Homo sapiens: one gene and its partner. The protein of the gene in region 1 interacts with the protein of each later gene in a pairwise test. Each region holds a gene or a part of one and is shown on either strand. Other genes may lie near its edges. The genes, in order: ROPN1L and AKAP5.

Evidence for each region.
Region 2: the proteins of ROPN1L (region 1) and AKAP5 interact in binary tests that used the Homo sapiens proteins (3 or more experiments, as listed by UniProt).

Annotation. Positions count from the first base shown.
Region 1 is NC_000005.10:10,444,591-10,448,410, forward strand, and holds part of ROPN1L (ropporin-1-like protein), read left to right. Parts: intron 1-3,669; coding exon 3,670-3,793; intron 3,794-3,820. UniProt on the Homo sapiens protein: Functions as part of axonemal radial spoke complexes that play an important part in the motility of sperm and cilia. Important for male fertility.
Region 2 is NC_000014.9:64,468,179-64,471,750, reverse strand, and holds part of AKAP5 (A-kinase anchor protein 5), read right to left. Parts: 5' UTR 3,357-3,572; coding exon 2,073-3,356; 3' UTR 1-2,072. UniProt on the Homo sapiens protein: Multivalent scaffold protein that anchors the cAMP-dependent protein kinase/PKA to cytoskeletal and/or organelle-associated proteins, targeting the signal carried by cAMP to specific intracellular effectors.

The DNA of each region.
Region 1 (3,820 bases):
TAAACTTCACTTTAAGAGGCTTAATCAGGCTGGGCATGGTGGCTCACACCTGTAATCCCAGAGTTTGGGAGGCCAAGGCTGATGAATCACCTGAGGTCAGGAGTTCGAGACCAACCTGACCAACATGGTGAAACCCCATCTCTACTAAAAATACAAAAATTAGCTTGGTGTGGTGGCACGCATCTGTAGTCCCAGTTACATGGGAGGCTGAGGCAGGAGAATTGTTTGAAACCGGGAAGCAGAGGTTGCAGTGAGCCAAGATCGTGCCACTGCACTCCAGCCTGGATGATAGAGCAAGACTCCATCATAAAAATAAATAAATAAATAAGAGACTTAATCAGGAACTTTCCGAATGTACCATGCTACTAATTTCTCTCAAGAGCCATTTATTTATTTATTTTTTAGATAGAGTCTTTTTCTGTGGCCCAGGCTGGAGTGCACTGGTGCTATCTAGGCTCACGGCAACCTCTGCCTCCTGGTTCAAGCAATTCTGCCTTAGCTTCCCAAGTAGCTGGGATTACAGGTGCGTGCCACCACGCCCAGCTAATTTTTGTATTTTTAGTAGAGACGGGGGTTTCACCATGTTGGCCACGCTGGTCTGGAACTCCTGACCTCAAGTAATCTGCCCTCCTGGCCTCCCAAAGTGGTGGGATTATAGGCTTGAGCCACCGCGCCTGACCAAGAACAATTTGTGAGTTTAGGAGAAAACCCAGGTATTATTCATTCGGCAGTATATATGTAATTGTAGGTTCAAATATGTTTCAGCTGTCACAGGACAGAATCTGTTAGGGAGAGCTATTCAAAAGTAACTTGAGTAAGGCGGGACTTGGTAAGTGCAAAAATGAAGGGTCACGAAAGTTAAGCAAAGTAGTGGCTTGGTCCTTGAGAGATTTTGTAGGCAGAGAGATTGGGGCTTGGGTGGGGTGGAGAGGATTCCAGGAAGAGGAAGCAGCACAGGAAGAAGGGGGTGGAGACAGGAAAAAGAAAAACCATCAAAACCAAAACAGGAAACCAGGATACCCACGGACATAACTGCTATAGAACAAGCAAGTAGGCTGAGCACGGTGGCTCACACCTGTAATCCCTACATTTTGGGAGGACGAGGCGGACAGGTTACTTGAGCTCAGGAGCTCGAGACCAGCCTGCACAACGTGGCAAGACCTTGTCTGTACTAAAAATAAAATTAGCCGGCCATGGTGATGCATGTCTGTAATCCCAGCTATTCAGGATGCTGAGGCAGAAGGATCACTTGAGCCCAGGAGTTGGAGGCTTCAGTGAGCCATGTTCACAACACTCTACTCCAGCCTGGGTGACAGAGCAAGAGCCTGTCTAAAAAAGAAAAAACAAACAAACAAAAAAGATGAAGCAAGTAGGCATTCCTCTTTCCTCAGGTTAGGGTTCTTTTCAAAGGTGCTTTTCAGGTGGGCAAATATCAAAGATGAGCCAGCCTCCCCCTAAGCCTGTGGACTCCACTGTGAGGGGAGTCGGCTGTTCCTTATGACACCATTGTGCAGTTGTGCCTCACACAGGACAATGAACATAAGAATCAGTCAAGTAATAGAGGCTGCTTTGGTTGGCGTGTGCCTCAAGGAACTGGCAGAGGCTAACATTAGTTGGTCTCACCTCAAAAGCAGGCATTTCCAGCCTCGGCCCTACTGACAGTTGGGGAGGGCACAGGAGGAAGGGGCATCTTGTGCATGATGGGACTTAGCAGCCTCCTGGCCTGCACCCACTGGATGCCTGGAGTACCATCCACCCTCTGTTGTGACAATCAAAAATGTCTCCAGGCCGGGTGCGGTGGCTCACGCCTGTAATCCTAGCATTTTGGGAGGCTGAGGCGGGTTGATTGTCTGAGCTCAGGAGTTTGAGACCACCCTGGGGGCAACATGGTGAAACCCCGTCTCTAATAAAATATAAAAAATCAGCTGGGCTTGGTGATGCACATGTGTAATCCCAGCTACTCAGGAGGCTGAGGCCGGAGAATAGCTTGAACCTGGGAGGTGGAGGTTGCAATGAGCTGAGATGGCGCTACTGCACTCCAGCCTAGGCCACAGAACGAGACTCTATCTCAAAAAAAAAAAAGCGTCTCCAGAAATTGCCAAATGCCTTTTGGCTGGGGAGGAGGGTGGCGGGTGGGGGAAAGAGGAGGAGCATTATCCCCCACTGAGAACTCTGCCTCCAGAGGCTGTATCTAGCTCGGGATTCCTTGCCTGAGTTATGAGGAGTTACCCCCATGAAATAGGTGAAAACCTTGATTAGTAGGAATGTGGCAAAACGAGGCACCTATTCTTCACCCACACCCTTTAGGTCTTTAGGTTCACATTTGTCTAACTCACTGCTGCCTTCAAATCATTAACAAAGCCACAAAATGGAGCTGAAGTTGTCTTACAAAGCAAGGAAACAAAGTCAAATTTGAGGGGTGTAAAGAGAGAGAAAGGATGAGATATGAAGTTTATTTTAGTCTATCAGATATCGACTTATCCATATTTATCTGTAGCAATGTTTCTAACTACCCATGGCTTTAAAATTGTTATCTGTGGCCCTGGTGGATGCTTTGATGTTCATTTGCCTGGATATGCTGTCTCTTTTCATCATGCTAAAGTCATTAGGGCCCCAAATGATGTGGCTTCAGCATCGCCACCTCTGGCAAAGATACCAAGGGGCGTGAGTTTCTCAGAAGGTCTTGCCTGGCACCCCTCCCACCACGAGCCAGAGGCTGGGTGTGGGTTCCCTCTTGACTTATTGCCCCAACAGTTTCCCACTCTTGCCCCCAACATAAGCAGCAATATCAGTGTCCCAGAAAGGAACAATTAAGGGGAACAATACCAGGCAGGAAAAGTGGGGGTGGGGGGATGGGAGCCAGGCCAGCACCTGCCATTCCCAGTGTGGAAGTAGGTGACCTGTGTGTTCCTGGGCTGCCTCAGGGTTGAATATGCAGAGACGCTTAAAGTCAAGCACCTCAAAAAGCAGCAAGACCAAACCCACCTGTCAAAAGTGGGAAGACGGCCAGGCACAGTGGCTCACGCCTATAATCCCAGCACTTTGGGAGGCCAAGCTGGGAGGATCACTTGAGGCCAGGAGTTCCAGACCAGCATGGGCAATGGAACAAGACCACATCTCTGTAAGAAATAATTAAAAAGATTAGCCAGGTGTGGTGGTGTGTGCCTGTAGTCCCAGCTACTCAGGAGGCTGAGGCGGGAGGATCCCTTGAGCTTGGGAGGTTGAGGCTACAGTGAGCCATGATTATGCCACTGCACTCCAGCCTGGGTGACAGAGTGAGACCCTGTCTCAAAAAATTTAGGAAAAAAAAAGAAAGAATAATACATGGAACTCCAGCTGATTGTGAAGTGGCAGGGAGGAGGGGAAGAATCACACATGTTGAAGGAGCTTCTGCGAGTGCCAGCCACTGCGCCAAGCCCTTCTCACACAATGCTCCCCAACCCTCCAACAGGGAGTCTCATTATCCCCTTTGCCAACAGAGAAACTAAGGCAGGCAGAGAAGGTTAAGTCAGAGAACCAAGTGGAGGAACCAGGACATAAGCCCGGGATGTTGGTCTTCAGAGCTGTCCTTCCTAATCACCGTTGTTTTGGGGGGTTATTTAAGAAATTGGATCGCATAGCTGTTTTTTGTGTATTGATGAGCTTTCAGAGATGTCTGTTATTTATTAGCTATTTTTCAGCTCTGTCGAGAGGAGATCCACTTCCTGTAAAGGACAGAATGGAAATGCCCACGGCAACCCAGAAAACAGACACAGGCCTGACTCAAGGACTCCTGAAAGTTTTGCACAAGCAGGTATGGGGGGGCGTAGTCTCTGGCCTC
Region 2 (3,572 bases), on another chromosome or scaffold:
AACAAATACCTTACATCTCATACTTCATCTTTATTACTTCATCTGTTTCAAGTAGTAACACAATCACTCAATTTACACAATGGGGGAATACACACTTTGAATCCTAACCTGTGAGGTAGGGAAGTGCACTCTGGTATTATGGCCATTTCACACAAGGAAAGATTGAAATAGGATTACTTTTTCAAAAAATATGGCAATCATTGATGAGATCAGATGCTTCCCTTTCAATATGTAAATAAAAATGCAAATAAGCCCTTCTCATTTTTGTAAAGTATATCTGGATTGAAAATAGTGATGAAGGCCGGGTGCGGTGGCTCATGCCTGTAATCCCAGCACTTTAGGAGGCCGAGGCGGGAGGATCATGAGGTCAGGAGATCAAGACCATCCTGGCTAACACGGTGAAACCCCATCTCTACTAAAAATACAAAAAATTAGCCGAGCGTTGTAGTGGGCGCCTGTAGTCCCAGCTACTTGGGAGGCTGAGGCAGAAGAATGGTGTGAACCCAGGAGGTGGAGCTTGCAGTGAGCCAAGATCGCGCCACTGCACTCCAGCCTGGGCGACAGAGTGAGACTCCATCTCAAAAAAAAAAAAAAAAGAAAAGAAAATAGTGATGAAAAAGTTAACTTTCAATATTCATGTAAAATGCTTTTTACTGGTCTCAACACACAGACATGAAGGAATACTGACATTTAAATTATAATGTGCTTTAGCAATAACTTTTCACTTTTCTATTCACCCACATTCATGGCTCATTTTTGGCCGAGAATAAATATTTGCACTAGATTATTAGGATTTTCCAGGACCATTACTACCAGGCTGGCTTTGAATCTACTCTCCCCTCTTTGGAGAGAAGTTGATGAATATGGCTCTTAAAGAAGTAATTCTGCAAGATGAATCCTATATTATCTGTGATAATTTACTTGGGAATTTTCCCTTCTCCTGGATGAAGAATAATATTCCCCTTGTTTTGTTTTTGCTGTTTCATTTTTTAACTTTTCACAGATAAATCCATGCAGAAATGGATATATACAGATCTGTTGAGGCAGAAAGAAAAGCGGGGGAAAAACCCACTCTCCCTGTTTCTACACTTTTGCACTTAGTAACAATTTGCCTGATTGAAGGATTTGTGAATGGTTCTCTTTTTTTTTTTTTTTTTTTTTGAGAAGGAGTCTCGCTCTGTTGCCCAGACTGGAGTGCAGTGGTGCAATCTTGGCTCCCTGCAACCTCCACCTCTCGGGTTCAAGCAATTCTCCTGCCTCAGCCTCCCAAGTAGCTGGGATTACAGGCGTGCACCACCACGCCCAGCTAATTTTTGTATTTTCAGTAGAGATGGGGTTTCACCACATTGGCCAGGCTGGTCTCGAACTCCTGACCTTAGCTGATCCACCCGCCTTGGCCTCCCAAAGTGCTGGGATTATAGGCGTGAGCCACTGCCCCTGGCCAAATAGCGCTTATAAGAGACTTAAGACTAGGAAACCACTCACGTTTAATATCAATATGCATATTCTGCACACTATCTGCTGAAATTGGGAAAATGCAATGTATTTTTTGAGTTAAGCCTGCTGCTTAGGAATGTAACAATTACAAATCACATTCACAAAAGTAGCTCACCTTATTCACCATTTTAAACATATATGTGCACTGTAAAAAATAAGTTTTTAAAAACTTAATGTGATGTTAGCCTATACACAGAGCTGAATTATCAAAAGGAAACCAGACTTTGTTATATCAGAGGTCATTAAAAAGCTTATGGCATACCATAAGTGCTCAATAAATACACCTTCCTCCCCCAAAGCACTCCAATCTCCATATGCCATTTTAGCAACTCCCTGTATGTTATGTCATTTTACACTGCAATCTGTGCTGACTTCCTCCAATCCAGAAGTGACTGCATTTCAGTGGTAGAGTTTTATAAACTTGACTTAATCTTTAGCACTTCTGCGCTGGAATTGTACCTTTTAAGTTCTAGAGATGATAAATCTCTCATTTGTTACTGAGTAAGAAATGCCACAAATGTATAAAAGAATTCTTCATTAAGCTTGTTTTTTCTGCCGTGACTCTGGAGAGTAAGTCACTGTAGAAGATTGTTTATTTTATTATCATCAGAGGCCATTTCATTAACCAGCTGTTCTATTGACAACTGAATAGCATTCTTGACTAGAGAAGAGGCTGTTTCAATTAAGAGTGTTTCATATTGTTCTGAAGTTCTATCCTCAAAACCATTATCATTAGCAAAAACCCCTACTTGCTCATTTTCAGCTGAAATTAAGAATTGCTTAGGGACATTTTTAGATTTTGTAACATCAAATTCACTGATTTCAGTGTCTGTAATAATAATAGCAATTGGCTCCATTCTTTTGCTTTCTTCTGATTTGGATTTCTCTTCAGTGATCCCATTTTCTTTAAAATCTGATTCTTGGCTCAATTCAGTATCTTTTGGCTTAGTTTCTTCAGCTACAATCTCTGTACTTTCATAGTCTTTTCCATTTGGTGCACTTTCTAGGGTACTGTTACTGGCTTCTTCCACAATTTGTTGATCTGGAATTGCAGGTAAAGGAGGAACATCAGAAAGTACTGGCTGCTGATGGTCTGTTTCTGAAGTTTCAAGTGGGCTTGCTTGCTGGGGTTGAACATCTTGTTTTTCCTTGATCGTTTCAATTTCTTCAAGGATTAGAGTTCCCGTTTGAATAGCAGAATGCCCATTATCTAATCCAAGTTCTACTGAAATCACTTTCTCTCCAGAAGTTGTGCTATTGCTCACATTTGATTCACAGACCTCATCACCATCTTTCCGTGAGATGCCTTCACTTAGATCCTGGGTTGACTTAGCCTTTGTTGCCTGATCATTCAATGGGGTCTGTGTTTGTATATCCAAAATTTCAGCTTCTTCCTGGACTTTGATGCTGCAGTCTGAGTCTTCTATAATTTTGGAATGATTACTCCTTTTTGGCCCTCTTGGGAATTTTATGCAGGGAATCTTAAGTCTAGATTTTGCCTTTTTCTTAGAAAGATCAGCATCCTCAGCATTTATTGCAGGTTGCATTTCACCCTCCAATGGCTTTTGCTGCTTTGAAGACTCTGACCTTTTCCTGCGTGTTACAAGACGTTTGAGTGAGGCCCAGGCCCCCCGTGTGGGCTCTGGCTGATCAGAAGCTCCTGCTTCTTGTGGACACTTCCTTGCCACATCAGCAGCTTCAGAGCCAGCTTTGGGCTTCAGTGCTTTGGCTGCTTTCTTTCTTCTCTTGAAGCAAAGCATGGATGCCTTTTCCTTCTGCCTTTCAGCCCCAGGACTACCTTCTGCTGATCTCTTCTCATCCTTGTTTTCTACATGAATTTCTGAAATTGTGGTTTCCATTTTTACACTGCACTCTTATTCTCTAGAAAACTGTATTCTCTCTTCCTTAGCAGCCTTTTGTGACAAAAAGATGAGCAAAAATGTCACACTAGGTAAAATTTCTTCCAGGCATATTCATACCTTTCATCTTACTCCATACAGTTGTTTTAGGTGGTTTCTCTAGTATAGAAATGCCCAGTTTCTCTATGGCTTGTAATTTCTCTCTTTAATTTCTTG